2 separate regions of the Homo sapiens genome follow, and region 2 is linked to region 1. The links come from fine-mapping of genetic effects on gene expression. A gene starts in region 1. The other region holds a variant in brackets. All regions are shown on one strand. Distances are from middle to middle.

The links.
Region 2: its variant is fine-mapped to the expression of CLEC2B in tibial nerve (GTEx, PIP 0.95).

The regions. Positions count from the first base shown.
Region 1 is chr12:9,863,725-9,873,400 of GRCh38, reverse strand. CLEC2B (C-type lectin domain family 2 member B) reads left to right here and starts at 4,047. Exons shown (of 5, transcript NM_005127.3): 1 at 4,047-4,196.
Region 2 is chr12:10,178,233-10,187,908 of GRCh38, reverse strand. TMEM52B (transmembrane protein 52B) reads right to left here and starts at 8,877. Exons shown (of 5, transcript NM_001384896.1): 1 at 8,281-8,877; 2 at 5,316-5,359; 3 at 2,541-2,579; 4 at 1,320-1,489. The coding sequence starts at 8,334. RefSeq lists an enhancer at 7,320-8,519. The variant G/C (reference allele first, on the strand shown) is at 3,165.

The sequences.
Region 1 (9,676 bases):
ACTAGTAATCCACCCTTGATTTCTTTCCCGTTGTACATGTCCAGCAAAGTCAGTGGTATACAGCTGACTGTTAAATTTTCAAGGGTTCTCGAGCCAATTGTTAAACATCATTATTTTTAAAAATTATCTAAAGTAACTTTTGCACCAACAGTAAGGTGCATAAATGTGCTTTGGTCAAGAAGTAGGCTGAGGCAGACATCCAGGCCATAGTGACTTAATGAGTTTGGAGTGCAGGCATATAACTCCACTTGTTATATAACCTGTTTGTGTAAGCTCATACTTGGCTCAAATCCACTATTGTTTGGAAAAGGTATAACTGCCCTGCTGATGCTGTACAGGCGCTCTTGGGCTTGCCTTGGCTCAGCATGGCGTGGCATGGCATGACATGGCTCGCACTGGTGCCCAGAAAGAGAGTAGCACTATTGACCCTTGTAAGGGAGAGCCAGTCGCCTTGAAGGCAGGCAGAGGGGAACCAGGAACGAGCTTGTGCCCAGAGGGAAAGAGTTAAGCTGCTAATCCTGACAGAGCTGGCCTTGCAGGCCAGGGCGTGCTGCTGCAGGCGTGGCGGCGGCAGGAGTCCCAGAGCCAGAGCAGACAGCGGAGATAAAGGCAGACAGTGTGAGAGAGTCGCTGTTGGTAAATAAAACTACATTTCACCTGCTTAGGGCCCCCAAGTGTTCTTTCAGCTATCGCCCATCCACCCACTCCCCTCAGACCTCAGCATGGGCTGGAACCTAACCTGGGTCATGACATTTGGAGTCATTGTGGCCCTAATGCCAAGCTAATAAAATAAATACTTAGAACTCATCAATTTGTGATGATTTTTAGAAGATTTTGCTATTATCCATGCATGAAATTATTAACATCTGTTACATCCGTATAGTGAAAATAATACGTAATGCTGTACTACTGCATATTTATTTCCAACTCTGTGTGTTCAGTGATGTCACCTGGGTACCTTGAAATCAGCAATGGTGGGAATAATTACATCACGGAAATCAGCTGGTGTTACAAACCAGAGCTTGTTATGTGTGTGTTTTTCTCTGTTCCACCAGTTGTTAAAGGACAGCACAGAAGTGGAAGCACCCTTTTTGGCTCTCTATATTACTTCTGTGAACATTGAGCTCTATCTGACATTGCTATGGCTCTATATGTCAGTAATCCTGGCTGCTATTGCAATTTGACCCTCATTACTATAATTGGCCCCAGCTTGTTTCAGAGTGGCACTCTGACACTTGGCGTTTCCTACTTCAAACCCTGTCCCAATACTCTCTCTGAATTCAGTTCTGTGGGAACATCTCCCACTGTAATCTTTGGCATGTAGAGAAGAACTATGCTAAGCTTCTCAGTGATGTTTATGTAGGACTTAAGTTCTTCCACCAGCGCCTTCCTTACTGCTTTGGTAAATAAGGTGCCCATTATATCATCCCATAGAACATAGTCAGTTGGTGGGTTTCCTGTCCTTATCTAGTTTATCCACTGTAGCATGCCCACTTCTCTAAGCATTTTTATCTTTTCTTCAGCTACCTGCCATGGGAATTCTGGAATGTTACTCTACTCAGCGTGAGCCATTGCTTTCTCCAATCTTCTTGGAGTTATTTCAGCAGTATGTCAGCACTGTTCACAGTATTTTTCCAAGTTATTAAATTCTGTATTGCAACTGAATGCCCTAATGTTGATAAAATCTCCCTTATCCAGCTTTATGTTTCTCTCATGATCTAGCACCCTCAGAATCCAATCCCATTGTGTACACTCCAAGCTGTTGTTATTATATATTGGTTAGGTCCAAATTCATTCTGAGTATAGCCCTTTCTCTCCCTTATAAGCTTAGCACATAACCTTAGTTATTGGCCTTATGACCAATAACTAAGAAAGGCAAGTAAGGGAGGGATTCCTGTAAGGAGGGTGTGAAGGGCACAATATTTTCTTTAAGGAAAAAGGCATGACCTCGACAAGGGAGAACATGTAACTTTGTTAGGATTAGAGAGTCCAACGTTTAGAAGCTTCTAGATTTTTAAAATTTTTGAGAAAAAAAATTGTGAAAAGTCACTATACAAATGATGGAAAGTATTTTTAATACATTTATCTAAAAATGGAATTTTTCTATATTATGTTGCAACCCATTTTACTTATTTATATACACATTTTTATGTGTATGTTTCTCTACATATATATTTACATATATATAAAATCTTAAAAATCACCATAAGGAAACAAATAAATCCATAAAAATGGGAAAAATATTTAAATAGGTCATTGAAAAAAGATATATGAGTTACCAATACGCACGTGAGTAAATGCTCAATATAACATCAGAGATGTACAAATTAAAATCACATTTAGATTCTACTACACGCCTACTAGAATGGTTAAATTGAAAAAGATTGGGCATATCTAATATTGCTATTTATGTGGAGCAAATAGAACCATCCAATATTCATGTTGGGAATGGCACAACTTTTTGGAAAAAAATACATTTATAAAATAAAACATACATTTTCTATGTAACCTAGCAGTTTCACATCCAGGTATTTCTTCAAAAGATTAAAAAACGTGTCAATAGAAAAACTTTTGCATAAATGTTTATTTTGACCTTATGATATCCAAGAAGTGGAAAAAGCTCAATGTCATAATGGATACATTTTATTATAAAATAGATAAAAATATTTTATGTCTGTACAATGAAATACTACTCAGTAATAAAAAGAAATTAACTGCTGATCTGTGCAAAAACATGGATAAAACTCAAAAACATTATGCTCAGTGAAAGACATCAGACTTACAAGAATTGCCAACTGTATCATTCTGCTTAACAGGAATTTCTAAAACCAGCAAAGCTCATGTTTATTGACAGTAAGTTGGCTGCTGCCTGGCTTCAGGGGTGAGGATGAACTGCAAAGCAACAGCGGGGAACATTTCCCTGTGTTGAAAATGTTTTATATCTTAACTGTTGTATCTTGACTGTTTTCCTTTTTGGAACAAAACTAAATTTCACTCAACCATACTTGAGTAATCTCTATATTTTTCTATACATGCTTTTCTAATAGTTCTTTGGATACAATCTTTTGTTAACAACAAAGGTAGAATATATTCATTTCCTCATGAATTTTCTGTCTTTTTTTTCTGTCCAAAAATGAAAAGAGCAATTTTGTTATCTGTCCTTTCCTTCTGCCCAGAAATGATTAAACCTGTATTTCTTATTCTCTTCATATTTTCTTTGTTTTAATTCCTTTGTACTACAGTTTCTTCTCTATTCTCATTTGCTTTTCCTCTTCAAGTTTCTCTCTCAGAACAAATGCAGTGTTAATCCCGAAGCCGCTTGCGGGACACTGGCTTCTTCTCCTCAGTTTCCTCCCTAATATATTTGTTGAGGGGTAATACAAAATCACTGGGAAACTGATTAGAGCAGATTTGAAGACAAAATTGTGGCCTGGTAACTTAGCAAAAGCATAATGGTGTCATCTTGTATGCTGATGATAACGTTCTGGGCACTTTGTTACTTTCGTTTTCTTTTTTCCCTCTGTGTGTCTTTGTGTGTGTTTGTGTGTGTGCTCACACCCACACGTGTGACTTTGCACGCATTTGTCTTTGAGAGAGAGATAATAGTTTTTGTTTTTCTTTCAGTAGCCAAAGTTTAAACCATTGCTTTTTCTTTGATTCTATCGCTTTTAAGGTGATCTTTCTTAACACAGGATAAGAAAGCAGTAATGTCCTAAAGAATGCTGTTGAATTAATTAGTATCAGCCTCTCCTACAGTTCTGGAAGGATACGTGGTTAAGTACCACTCCTGGATGAATCAGAAAAACAGCCACTTGAGCAATTTCGTGTTCTGTGGTTCAGATGAGAATCCCAGTTGAGAAAGTAAGAAAATATGTGTTTATTCTTCAGCTTTAAATTGTTATATCACAAACTTCCTTCCTCCTTGGCAAGCTTTCTTTTTTGACGAGAAGAAAATTGTAATAAACAACAGTATGACTAATAGATAGTCACATGGTTACTTCCAGTTTGCAAAATGCTATTTATACTTTGAGTTACTCTTCAAAAGTGGTATACCTCTAGTTTGGAGCTGTGCTGTAAAAACAAGAGTAACATTTTTATATTAAAGTTAAATAAAGTTACAACTTTGAAGAGAGTTTCTGCAAGACATGACACAAAGCTGCTAGCAGAAAATCAAAACGCTGATTAAAAGAAGCACGGTAAGAACATTTTTGTTTGTTTAGAATGACCGTTATTTATTGAAATTGTGATGCAGAATGTTAAAGCCTTCGAGAAAAGAATTAAATTTTGTGGTTTCTTTTGTGAAACTAGAAAATTCCTTCTTATAACAAGATTGAGATTTGCATATGACTGTTTTGTCCTAATAAATTCAGACTTACTTTACATTATTTGAATTACAATGGAGAAGGATTAACCATGACTTAAAACTGCTCAAGATTTAGTTTCATTTTTACTAAGTATTTTATAAAACAAATACTTGAGAAGATGATAGATATGATCCAGATACTCATACAGTTCTCAGAATGCATACATAATATGATAAATTTAGCCAATAGTTCTAATATTTTTAAAGATTGCTTTATTGGATGGTGTAAAGATACTCCGGGCTTTAGGAGTACTTAACGGAAAGAATATATCCCTTTCCTACTCTTACTAAGGAATTGCTAGTACTCCGATATCCATGGAGATGTCTTTACCAACCCTAAGAAGGATAAGGAAAGAAAATGTTCTAAAAAATACACTATGAAACAACCTGGTAACATTGGATTTATTAAATAGCAAGTTCGGAATATATAAGATCCAAGCTACATCTTTGAGATTTCAACAGGGTTTATTTATGTCAAAATATTTGAAAGAGAAAAGGCTGAAACTAAATGCATTCAATACAACGATCTATGATTTAGAGATTTAGGGACTGTGATGAGCTTTAAGCATTTCCCGTTTAACTAAATGTCAACCTACCAGCGTATGCTACGGTCAAAAAAATTATTGCTGTGGTACAATAGAATGCACACTTTATCCTTCCTCCCGTATTTTAACCGGTTTTATAATTCTGCCTAAAGTTAGATAAAACAGGTTTGCGGGGAATGAGATCAATATTTGATGGTAGCATAAAATATCATTTTAATCAAAAGTTTTAAGAAGGCCTTCCAGCCACTAGTAAAACCAGTGTTATTTTCTACTTTCAATCAATTGTATAAATTTATACATTTGTATATAAATACATTATATAATACAATATTATATATCATATTACATATGAATATATTTTAAAAGTTACTGAATAATATATTCAGTATAATATTGTATATATTATAGATACATATATATCTGAAATTATGAACATCGTTTTAATAGCGGTAATTTAGGGCAGTGTGATATAATTCAGTCAGTTTTTATATACATTTTAACAAATATTTTATTTGCTCTGCTTATCAGTATTTTATGATTTTTTTCTATAGCTATTAGCCAAGAAAAATAATATTCTGTTTGATTTTAAATGCATTGGTCACTCTGCATCTTTCTTATCTTTCCTTAGAGAGCAGAATCAAACAGAAAACAGTTGAGTCACTGAAACTTTTCTATGGGGAAAACAATTGCAGTCCTTAACTGTTTAGATTATACATTTAAATATAGAACTATTTTAGTTACACTGTTAATTAAATCCATTGTTCTCGAACTGTCTGGGGAAGTGTCCTTTTAAGCATAGCCTCATCAAACGTTAAGAAGGCTCAACAACTTTGAAATTCATGTTTCGATATCAGCTTCATCGTGGGAGATCACAATTTTTTAATTTGTTTGAAAGGCAGCTATGCTAACCACATTCTACCAATGCCACTAATTTTTCTGATAACTCATGTAAATAATTACAGCCTCCTAAATAAGTATTGAGAATTCAGTAACAATGAAAAGATTCTGGGAAATTAAAAACAACTGAAAACAACTTATGCTGAGTGTAAAAAGCTAGATTTCAGGGTTCACGATATAGATTAAGTAGAGAATGAACACATAATAGGTTTAAATTTGTACCTACATATTCAGACATGCAATAAATGTTGAATTCATTAGTTATTTAAATAAAATTAAATGTTACTTCAAGTCTCCATCCCACTGAATGGACAGGACAGTTTACTTACTTTCTGTCATTTGGTGGTATTGAGAGTGAGAGATTTCTTCCAAGGTTATATGAAGTTTCCCAGGTTGTATAAGACACCAAAGTGTTATAATGGTCTCCATTCATCAGTTTCCACTGATTACACCTGAGAAGACCATGTTCCAATATAAATGACCTCTTCGGGTCTAGCTCTGCTATTTTGTGCTGAACTCATAACAAAAGCCACACTGTTTCTTTGCCACATTTAAAGTACGATCATCTTTTTTGAAGCTGGGGTCATCTGTACGTAAAATCTACCAACTCTGTATACACCACCAAGTCCTTATACTCTAATACCTTGCCAACTTTGCAATGGAAAGGGCTCCTATTTTCCGCTGTATCTGCAAATTGTCATTTCTCATATTGTCAGGATGTGCATTGCCCTTCTCTCTACCTGTTAGCTCGAAGTTATTTCCTCTTTTTAAAATCCCTTCACAATTTTCAGAAACATTACTTCAATAAGCTAGATTTTTTTTTAATTGAAAAGGCCATTGATTTAAGCAGCTTAGGGTTTTCTTTTCAACAGTCATTCTGGAAGAAAGAATATCAAAATGGTCTGACTACCTCCTTCAAATAACAGATATGAAATTGACTCAAAAAATACTTCCACTTGCTGCAAATGTAAATAATCTTTACACTCTTAACACACACAAAATAATTAAAATATTTAAAAACAGGACAACTATAACACAAGAAAAAAATAATAGCAAAAGTTACCTTTTATTTACTTCCTGTTGTAACTATACTTTCTAAAAACACAACACACATATGCTCTTTAAAAAAAAATAGAAGTGGTACTAGTTAATGGATGAAGAGTATAGGATCAAATGGGGGTAAGAAAATACAATTACATGCCACAAAGGTTTGATCAAGATTTTGAAATCATGATATCTCTAACATCTATATTTTTACATTATGCCAATTCATGGGGAGAAAAACGGAATGACATACTGACATATTTACTTGATTCATGGCATTGAAAACAGAGAAAAAACTTCCTGTCTTTTCGATACCTGAGGTTTAAAGAAAATTAATAAATAATTCATGATATTAATAAGGTTATATATGAAAGATAAGAAACCTCATCAGAAAGAGCTTGATTTTTTAACACTTCTTTTTTCTACTAATTTGGGGTTTGGTTTGTTCTTGCTCTTACAAATCCTTTAAGTTCATCATTAGGTTATTTATCTGAAGTCTTTTTACCTTTTTTTAAAGGCATTTATTACTATAAACTTCCTTCTTTGTACTGCTTTTCTGCATTCCACAGATTTTAGTTTATTGTGCTTCCATTTTCATTTGTTTCAAGAAATTTTTAAAATTTTCTTAATTTCAACATTGACTCTTTGGTCGTTAAGGAGCACATTATTTAATTTTCATGTTTGTGCAGTTTCTGAGGTTTCTCAAGTTATTGACTTCTAGTTTCATCCCATTGTGGTCAGAAAAGATACTTGATTAGATTTCTACTTTTTTTAATTTATTGAGACTTGTTTTTTGGCCTACAATGTGGTCTGTTCTGGAGAATGCTCCATGTACTGATAAAAATAATGAGTATTCTGCAGCAGTGCTTCTGTACGTGTCAGTTGGATATATTTGGTAAAGTGTGCAGTATAACTCCAATATTCCTTGTTGATTTCCTGTTTAGATTATCTGTCCATTACTCAGGGTGAGGAGTTAAAGTCCCCCAATATTATTGCATTGCAGTCTATCTCTCCCTTTAGATCAATGAATGTTTGCTTTATATACTTGGGAGATCTGGTGTTGGGTCCATAGATTTTTAGAACTGTCATATCCTCTTGCTGAATTGACCTCTTTAGCATTATATAGTAACCTTTGTCTCTTTTTAAAGTAGTCTTTTAAAGTTTTGTAATCTATTTTATCTGATATAAGTATAGCTGCTCCGGCTTTTTTGGTTTCTATTTGCATGGAATATCTTTGTTCATCCCCTTCACTTTCATTCTCTGTGTGTCTTTATAGGTGAAGCAGATTTCCTGTAGGCTGCATACAGTTAGGGTTTTCTCTTTACCAAGTCAGCCACTTTAACTTTATGCTTTTTTTTTTTTTTTTTTTTTGAGAGAGTCTTGCTTTATTGCCCAGGCTGGAGTGGAGTGGCATGATCTCAGATCACTGCAGCCTCCAACTCCTGGATTCAAGCGACTCTCCTGCCTCAGCCTCCTGAGTAGCCAGGATCACAGGCATACACCACCACACCAAGCTAAGTTTTGTATTTTTAGTAGAAATGTGGTTTCGTTATGTTGGACAGGCTAGTCTTGAGCTCCTGACCTCAAATGATCTGCCTGCCTTGGCCTCCCAAAATTCTGGGATTACAGGCGTGAGCCACTGCACCCGGCCTGCACTTTATGTCTTTTAATTGGAGAGTTGAGTTCATTTAAATTCCATGTTATTGTTAAGTAAGGATTTTCTGGGGCTGTTTTGTTGCTTGTTTTATGGTTGTTTTTAAATTTCTCTCTTTTTTCTTTTCTTACTGTCATTCTTTGGGGTTATATAATTTTCTCTGGTGGTATATATTAATTAGTTGCTTTTTATTTTTAATGACTCTACTATAGGTTTTGCATTGTGATTACTATGAGGCTTATAAAAAATCTTATAGATATAACAAGTTATTTTAAAGAGATAACAACTTATATCACAAAGAATAGCAACAAAGGAAAAAAACACTTTTACTCCACCCTCACACATTTTTAATTTAGTTTTCCCAATTCACATATTTTTATTGCTTACCTCTTAACTGGTTTCTGCAGTTATCATTGTTCTTGATAGATTTATCTTCCAGTCTTCATTACTAGGGATATGAGAAGATTGTGCACCACAATTACAGTATTAGAGTATTCTGGGTTTGTGCATACACTTAATTTTATCAGTGTATTTTAGATATTCAGCTGTTTTCTGTTCGTGTGTTTTTTTCTTTTTGGTTGAAGAACTCCCTTTAGCATTTCTTATAAGATATGTCTGGTGGTGGTGAATTCTCTCAGTTTTTGTTTGTCTGGGAAACATTGTCTCTTCTTCATATTTGAAGGTCAGCTTTGCAGGATATGGTATTCTTAGATGGCAGGGTTTTTTTTTTTTTTCAGCACTTAAAAAATGTCATCACTTTTCTCTTGGTCTGTATGGTTTCCACTGAGACGTCTATCATCAGATAAATTGGAGCTCCTTTAAATATTATTTGCTTCTCTTCTCTTGCTGATTTTAGGATCCTCTCTTTTTCCTTGACCTTTGAGAGTTTGATTATTCTATGCCTAGGGGTAGTCTTGTTGGGGTCGGAATCTGTTTGGTGTTCTCTGACCTTTATCTGCCTGAATCTTTATCTCTTTCTCAAGCTTTGTAATACTTTCTGTTATTATTTCTTTGAATAAGCTTTCTACCTCTTGCTCTGGTTTGACTCTCTCTTAAACACCAATAATTCTTAGATATGGTCTTTTGCAGTAATTTTCTACAAGATGTTGGCATTCTTCCTTCCTTTTTATTCTTTTTTTCTCCTTTCCTTGTGTATTTTCAAAAGCCCATCCT
Region 2 (9,676 bases), 310 kb before region 1:
CAGCTTGGTCTCGAACTCCTGACTTCAAGTAAGCCACCTGCCTCAGCCTCCCAAAGTTCTGGGATTACAGGCATGAGCCACTGCGCCCAGCCATCACTCTCTTTTCAAAATAAATATCCACATTTTGCCAGCTGGTGTTCTGACTGGTACTTGCTCCTCAATTTTAGGAAAGAGCATAGTCCAGGCACAGTGGCTTATGCTTGTAATCTCAGCATTTTGGGAGACAGAGGCAGGTGAATCATGAGGTCAGGAGTTTGAGACCAGCCTGGCCAACATGGTAAATTGTCTCTACCAATAATAAAAATAAACAAATAAATAAATAAAAATTTAAAAAAATATAGCCTGGTGTGGTGGTGGCTGCTTGTAATCCCAGCTACTCAGGAGGCTGAGGCATGAGAATCTCTTCAACCCAGGAGGCGGAGGTTGCAGTGAGCTGAGATTCCCACCACTGCACTCCAGCCTGGGCAACAGAGGGAGACTCCGTGTCAAAAAAAGAAAGTAACCATTTTGGCCAGGCATGGTGGCTCACGCCTGTAATCCCAGCCCTTTGTGAGGCGGAGGCAGGTGGATCACAAGGTCAGGAGTTTGAGACCAGCCTGGCCAAGATGGTGAAACCTCGTGTCTACTAAAAATACAAAAATTAGCCAGGCATGGTGCAGGTGCCTGTAATCTCAGCTACTCTGGAGTCTAAGGGAGAGAACTACTTGAACCCGGAAGGCGGAGGTTGCAGTGAGCCTGAGATTGCACCACTGCACTCCAGTCTGGGCGACAGAACAAGACTCCATCTCAAAAAAAAAAAAAAAAAAAAACCGTCATGGAAAGAATAGAACCACAGAAGAAAAGGGAAAGTGTCTTATAATCATTGAGAAAATGTTAAGGCTAAAATTTAGTGTATCAAGCCTTGAAGAATAAAGAACTGAAAGTACATGTCATTAATTTCTTTAAAAATATAAAATAGTATAGATAATAGAAAAAGTAGATTTCACAAAATCCAAGACGTTTTGAAAAAGGCATCCGTTTGGAGTTCAAAATAGTTTTTAGCAAAGTAACTATTTATAAACTGGCTAATTCTTCCTATTCAATATTTCCAATAGCCTCCAATATTTCACTTCTTTCTTTATCATGAGCCAGACAGACCCTTGAGAACACAGCTTCAGTGACAGCCCAGGTCACTGCACCATCAGGCTTCTGGGAATGGAAATTATTGTGAGTCCTGGAATCTTTAATATTACTCGATCAGTGGTTCTACACCTTTGCACCCTTTTCATTATTCCCTTAAATTGGGTCCTCCTCCCAGGTTAAAAGTTCAGTGTACTCACATGTGATAGTGCTCTGGAGAGTGCTGTCGTGATCGAAAGCAATGACGGTCACTTCACAGGGTGGTGGGCCCCCATCTTCCCCATTTTGCTGGCGGCTCAGACAGCAGCAGCGGAAGCACAGGGACGTCAGGCCACACAGGAGAAGCAGCGCGCCAATTACCACTAGCAACCTGCAAAAGCCCACGGGGCGAGTGGGAGCTCTGGGATCTGGCTTTTTTCCCAGCTCTGCTGTAACCAGTCTTTAATGTCTGTGTTTTGATTCTTGTCTAAACATTTTATAGAATAATTATAAATATTTTAATTTATAATTTTAATTTCAAGGCTTTTGCTTTATAGATACACCTCCTTATTTTGTCAGCTGCAGTAAGTCAATTCATTAGAACAAATAGTAAGACATTTAAGGTAGTTTGGGGGGCTGCTTCTTTTTTCTTTTCTGAGACAGAGTCTTGCTCTGTTGCCCAGGCTGGAGTGAAGTGGCACGATCTCAGCCTCCTGAGTAGCCAGTACTATAGGCACATGCCACCACACTCGACTAATTTTTTTTTTTTTAGACAGAGTTTTGCTCTTGTTGCCCAGGCTGAAGTGCAGTGGCACAATTTCAGCTCACCGCAACCTCTGCCTCCTGGGTTCAATCGATTCTCCTGCCTCAACCACCTGAGTAGCTGGGATTACAGGCATGTGCCACCACGCCCAGCTAATTTTGTATTTTTAGTAGAGACGGAGTTTCTCCAGGTTGGTCAGGCTGGTCTTGAACTCCTGACCTCAGATAATCCACTGTCTCGGCCTCCCAAAGTGCTAGGATTACAGGTGTGAGCCACCGCGCCCAACTTTTTTTGTATTTTTAATAGAGATGGGGGTTTCTTTATTTTGCTCAGGCTGGTCTCGAACTCCTGGCCTCAAAGTGATCTGCCTGCCTCAGCCTCCCAAAGTGTTGGGATTACAGGTGTGAGCCACCACGCCCGGCCAGGCTCTGCTTTTTAATTCACTAAAGTAATCTTCGTTGAGATATTTCTAGAACAGACTCCGAGGGAAGGACACAGTAATGGTTTGATGTTTGCGGAGGAGATGGTATTGAAAAAGGAAATCCTGACATATTGTCACATAGGTAGTGATGAAGTAATGAAATCTTACTCCATGAGATGCTAAGTAAGTAGGCAGGTTGTCATTTTTAATGGCCTTGAGGAATACAGTGTCTTTCTGGGTATTATAAGTGAAACTTACCATATATACCAGAGATGTACCCAGTCTGTGGTCAGGCAACTATAAAGAAAGAATAAAGTTTTCTACATTAAAAATATAGTCAATCCCTGTTATAACTCCAGACTCAGAAATATGAGTTACAATATGATGTGATACCTTGTTATAAATAAAGCACCATGGGTTATGTTTTTAAAATTCACTGTAGCTAGTTGAATCTTTTGCCAAATGATATGCTTTAAATAGTACTTTATACTATAGATGGCATTGTCTGAGTCATTTTGTAAATCATTATAAAACAAACTAGTGATCATTAGAAGTGTCCATAGAAAACATGTCTGTGCCTATTGCAAACATTTATGATAAAAATGACCAAGAAAGGGCCAGGTGCGGTGCCTCATGCCTGTAATCCCAGCACTTTGGGAGGCTAAGGCTGGCAGATCACGAGGTCAGGAGTTGGAGACCAGCCTGGCCAACATAGTGAAACCCCATCTCTACTAAAAATACAAAAATTAGCCGGCCGTGGTGACGCCATCTCAAAAAGAAAAAAAAAATACTAAGAAAGAACTTGGAATGCAAGTTTACAAAGAGTAACTTTGAAAATGGATGTGAAACTTAAGGCTTGTGTATATTTGAGGTCAATAAAAT[G/C]TAAACATAAAGAAAATTTCAGTTATGAGTATGAAAGTCATACAATCACATTTGTAATTTATCTTTTGCAAGCTGTTGCAACACTCCCACTGAGAATGTAGGAAAAAAAAAACTTAGTTTCTTCCTGCTATACTCTCCCAACCCTCTGACACCAGATGTGGGTGGGTGAGGATTTCCGCACACACCAGGCAAGCAATCTTCCAGCAACAGACAACAGCTGAGCGTCCTCTAATTCAATTCAATGCCAACACCACCTGCTTGGAGATAGGATCCGATCCCATAGGGTGAGGACTCAGTCCCCTAGACGGCTCCCCAGAATTCTGATGCCAATCACAATTTGTTTTGCCTGTGCTTCTGACCTACTGGTTATAAATTGGGGGTTCCCTGACTCCCTCTTGAGGTTGCGTTAATTTGTTAGAGCAGCTCACAGAACTCCGGGAAACACTTACTTACATCTACAGTTTATTACAAAGAATATTACCGAGGATGCGGATGAAGAGATGCGTAGAGCAAAGCATGTGGGAAGGGGCACGGAGCTTGCAGGTCTTCCGAGTGCACCACCCTTCAGAAACCACTGCCTGTTCAGCTTTACAGAAACTCTTCAAATCCATCCTTTGGGATTTTCATGAAAGCCTCATTATGTAGGCGTGATTGATTAAATCATTGGCCATTGATGATCAACTTAAACTTCAGCCCCTCTACTTTCCTTGGATGTTGAGGGGTGAGGCTTTAAGCATTCTGCATTGGTCCTTCCAATGACCAGCCCCATCCTAAATCTACCTAGGGGCTGCCAGCCACCAATCAACTCATTAGCATGCAAAATGATGCTACTTACTTTGGGGATTTTAGAAGTTGTATGCTAGGAGATAGGGACAAAACCAAATATATATTCTCACAATATCACACCCACCGTAAAGAGTACCCTAATTTTTCACATCCAGGATCAAAACTAATTTGCATATCCACTGAGACCAAACAGGAAGAGGGAAAAAAGTAGAAGCCAACTTTACCATGATGAAAGCTAAATAATGTTCTGAGTTCACTATGGCAATTGTAAATTTTCTCTGTAAGAATGAAAAAAAAATAGGGATTGTATGGGAGAAGGAGAAGATAAGTTCAGGAATTGGAGAATGAGGGGAGGCAAAATATTTGTGTATCTTTGAAGAGTAGTAAATTTTGTTATTTAATAATTCTTTCTGATACAGGAATCTACTGAAATCTAGTGAATCTATTTTTATTCTCTGGTCACACATTTATAGAAAATATAGTTTTGTTTTGTTTTTCACTGAACAATGACTCCTCTTGGTTTTCCCACATTTCTTACTTGTTGAAAACTCTTCTAGTTCTAATTAGACTCTGGTTTATAGGAAAGGACTCTTCCTATGGTGGAAGATGTGTAAAACCTCAGAAAGCAGGTGTCAAGTAGTCAACACCCAATTTGCATGTGACAGGTAATCAAGGCTATCACCCTTTCCCTGGGTTTAACAGACCTGGCTATTGGGAAACCCTTCCCATGGCTAAATATGTATTTTTCTTCATCCTAAACACGTTTTTATTCAAAGTGCCACTACTTTTTAAAATTTGTATTTTACAGTTCCTTTAAGTGGAATGATTCTTTTGCATTTTTATCTTCATGTCCTCTGTGTCTACATAAGACTTAAGTGTGACAGGTTTGGATTAGTTGATAACTACATCAAAGTGATAGCTAAATGAAGTCTGCCCAATAAATGTTAACATGCCCTAAAAACTAGAAAATACTTTCCCAATTTAAAGTAATAATGTTACTTTGGAAATCACCCAAATATATATGCCAGTGACTAGATACTAAACCGTCTGTCCTGGTGAGTCACTGAGGAGCAGGGCTAAGGAAGTCTTTTGCAAGTCTCTATGACTGTATAAGTTGAGATTAATCGTGCTGCTTTGATGGGAAGATTGGCTTTGGGTAAAAACATGCTGTCAGCAGTGTTATTTTGAGTGCTTAAGATGACAAAAACACGTCTTTATTTTGTGATAAGTCATCTATGAGATCTATTACTTAAGTAAAAATAAATAAAAAGAAGTCATAGATGTCTAATGACATCTTGACTCTCTTTTGGGGTAGTGATGTTTTGGTCTGTTGCTCCTTCCTCCCAGCTTGAACTCTATACTTACTGTTCAGGATTACCACAGTTTTCCTCACATCTCGTCCCAGAAAGCTGTAGAAAGAGAAATTGTCTTATACAGGGAAATTGTTTTGGCCACTGTGTTCAGCTGCTTACCAATCATCTCTCATGGTTGTGCTGTGTTAGATCAAGCAGTAAGAAGGTCACGGTCATAGGGGCAGTCTATTTAGGACTGCCATTTTCATCTCTCCCATACTTGCTGGCTTTTGTACTTGAGGTAAGGGAACCTTGAAGAACAAATATCTCATCTGTTGTGTTGATGGTGGGTGAGCATCACCCTTTGTGAATGAGAGGTAGCCATTTACATTAATTTGTTTGTAGTAGAAAATTCCTGATCTCTCTGTCCCTTGGGATATTGCCATTGTCCTCCTAATTCCTGCCCAGTTGAATTCTACACCACTGCTCTTTTTTTATCCTGTTAGTGTGACAATGACTATACAAAGGAAGAAGGGGAAAAGCGAGGGGGCCAGTGGGACAGAGAGTCTTATTTATCGAATAGCTACTAGATGCCACTCAGACTGCTAACAAGTTTTTTTTTTTTGTTTTTTTTTTTTTTTTTTTTGAGTCTTGCTCTGTCACCCAGGCTGGAGTGCAGTGGCGTGATCTTGGCTCACTGCAACCTCTACCTCCCGGGTTCAAGCAATTCTCCTGCCTCAGCCTCCCGAGTAGCTGGGACTACAGGCACGTGCCACCACGCCTGGTTAATTTTTGTATTTTTAGTAGACACAGGGTTTCACCATGTTGGCCAGGCTAGTCTCGAACACCTGACCTCAAGTGACCCACCCACCTCCGCCTCCCAAAGTGCTGTTGGGATTACAGGTGTGAGCCACCGCGCCCGGCCATGAACTCTTAATATTTCATAACATTTAATCACAATAACCCTCTTGGTGGGTATATTTAACCTTATCTTGAAAGGTTAAGGGACTAAGGCACAGGGTTTTAAGTAATGTGACCAGGCCAGGCGTGGTGGCTCACGCCTGTAATCCCAGCACTTTGGGAGGCCAAGGTGGGCAGATCATGAGGTCAGGAGTTCGAGACCAGCCTGGCCAACATGGTGAAATCCCGTCTCTACGAAAAATACAAAAATTAGCCCGGCGTGGTGATGTGCGCCTGTAATCCCAGCTACTCTGGAGGTTGAGGCAGGAGAATTGCTTAAACCCGGGCAGTGGAGGTTGCAGTGAGCCGAGATCATGCCACTGCACTCCAGCCTAGGCGAGCAAGACTCCATCTTGGAAAAAAAAAAAAGTGACCAAATGTACACACCTATTGATGCAGACAGAATTCAAATCAAACTCTATCATAGATATGTGTTGGATGAATTAATAGCACTGGGGACAAGTTTGCTCTAACAATTCCTTGACATTGCTATGAAGTCCCTTCTACTCCCTTTACAGAAAACAAAAAAACAAACAAAACTGTCCACTCTTTCTTCTACCTGATTTTTTAGTTGACTTCCTCTTTCAAAAACCCATTCAAGGCTGGGTGCAGTGGCTCACACCTGCAATCCCACCACTTTGGGAGGCCGAGGTGGGTGGATCACTTGAGGTCAGGAGTTCGAGATCAGCCTGACCAACATGGTGAAACCCCATCTCTACTAAAAAAATACAAAATTAGCCAGGCGTGGTGGTGCATGCCTGCAATCCCTGCTACTTGGGAGGCTGAGGCAAGAGAATCGCTTGAACCCAGGAGGCGGAGGTTGCAGTCAGCCAAGATCGTGCCACTGCACTCCAGCCTGGGTAACAAGGGCAAAACTCCGTTTAAAAACAACAACAACAACAACAACAAACCATTTAAGTAAACTCAATTCTAGAAGTTGCTTCTGTCTTCTAATAACCTGAGTGATCTGATATTTCAGGAAAGCAACCACAAAGGCCCTAGAAAAGAAACAGATTTGTAACTATTGGGAGTTTATGGCGGGTAGTGAAGGGGTAAGGAGACACACATTCTCAAGACCTATCAGTTGGAAAGGATCTGTAAAAGGATTAATGGCCAGCCTTTGCAGGTAACATTTGAGAAACCCGTGTTTGTGTTTTCATTGGAAAGAAATGGCCACTAACGATGAAAAAGCGTGTGTTTCCTCTACGCAACCATGGTACTTTCTTTCACTTTCTTCACTAAAGGTAAGAGAAGCCTAAAGTGCTCAGCAGAGAAAATGCTACTTTTCAGGCTTGTTGCAAAGAGAAAAGAAAGGAAAAATGAAGGGAAGACAAGGCAAAGGGAGTGAAGAGGAAGCAAAAAGAAAATATAAGAAAAAATGGATTTTCAGATACCACTTTAACTGTTCTATTAGCAAAAAAAAAAAAAAAACAAACCATACAGCCCACTCTGTACGGGGGCCATACGGGAATCTGAGACTATCCAGTTTTCTTCATTTGCTCTCCTTCTTGCTAGATGGCATAGCTCTATAAACTTCCCTGTGACAATTGTTTAGAATCCCTCAGTCCAGTGACCCTTTTCTCCACTAATGGATTACTCAGAGACTTCTGATTCATTGTGGGGCCCAAAATATTTTAAAAGAGCCCTGCCTCTCTTATTTCTAGACTAGAGGCACCTAAACTGCTAGAACAGGATTAGAAATTCCTGGATGGGAAATTCCGTTTAGGGGAATTACACACCTAGTTTTCATAATTTGTTTGGAATTTTGAGGGATGGGTGATAAGATGCTAAAAGAGATAAAATACTTCAGCGGCACTTCTAAAGTGCCACGGCAATCCTGCTCGTTTCCATGCTCACTCTAATTTCTGTCCCCCTTTTCATTGTCATTGCCATCAGTCACACATGCATCTATGCAATCTCGTAATACTAAGGAAACTTTGTAGTTTATTCATTTCCCTATGACCCCCTGGGTTCTGTATATGTCTCCCCACCCCGCAGTTCATTTCCTTTCAGACTCTTCTGAGAGTTGATTAATCTGGGGAAAAATACTCTTTCTGCCTTTTCACCACTGAACTCACCAGGATGAAATACAGCAGGGCTGAGGCCGCCACGACATGAACTCGGACTCCCATCGGGCTGAATTCCTGCTTCTTCAGAATCTTGCACTGGGCATCCGTTGCCTCCTTTCAATGCTCTGTGCCATATTTTACTTCTTGACCTAGAATTCTTAAGAAGAGAAACTTTTCTCAGGAATTTATCAGCTTTTCTCTCTCTCGTTCTCTCTGTCTCCTCCTACTCGCTCTGGCTGTTATTTTCTATGGCTTTTCCCTCTTCTTTCCTGTTTTTCTTCTTTATTCTTATTACTATTTCTATGGCCTCCACATTTACTTCCTTTTGCCTTCTTTCTTTCCGTTACACTATTAATTCTTTCTACATCTTGAAGTTTCTTTCTCCTACTGCTCCCAAAAAGGAGACATTCAAAGAGGACATATGTGTCCTCTGAATGAAGTATTTTTCTAGACAGCGATGAAAAACTTGGCTTTGAGGATGGTCAAAGGCAGATTGCTGGTGACCAAATATATTCCTTTCTTCATCAGAAAACTGGTAATATTCTTGATCCTTCACCAGAGTACTCCAGCGTGACTGTTGCAGGGTGAAAGTCACCCTGCTAATCTCCTTTCTTCTCTCTCCGTGTGACTAACAACCCCTTCTTGCTCTTTGAAACCCTCCCCTTCACTATGTTGATAATCAACTCTCCTGGTTCTGGGTCATTTATATCCCTAAGCATTGGGGTAAGACTGAGAGGTTGCCAAGTGAACAGGAAAGCCATCTCATCTTTGGAGAAAACAGACTTGAAGATGAGAAATCAAGTCGGAAGATTAGAATTTTCAGGTGTTATCAGTGACATCTTCCTCCTCCCTGACTTCACTTCCCATTGAAATAGATAACTGAGAAAGACATTTTTTTAAAACCAAATTTTAAAAAAGCAAATGTATAGGTTTCTTTCTTTCTTGCCTTTTCTTTGTTCCTTCTTTCTCTCTCTTTCTCTCTCTCTCTCTCTCTTTGGTTAAGGAGTGATGTGATTGAGAAATAAGTCTTGTCACTCAGGAAAATAAAACCTAAGGTTAGAGTAAAAACAAGCACACATGCAAAAGCATAGAATACTTTTTTTTTTTTTTTTTTTGAGACGGAGTCTTGCTCTGTCACCCAGGCTGGAGTGCAGTGGCGCAATCTCGGCTCACTGCAAACTCTGCCTCCTGGGTTCATGCCATTCTCCTGCCTCAGCCTCCCGAGTAGCTGGGAATACTGGCGCCCACCACCACGCCCGGCTAAGTTTTTTTGTATTTTTAGTAGAGACGAGACGGGGTTTCACCATGTTAACCAGAATGGTCTCGATCTCCTGACCTCATGATCCGCCCGACTCGGCCTCCCAAAGTGCTGGGATTACAGGCGTGAGCCACCGTGCCTGGCCTA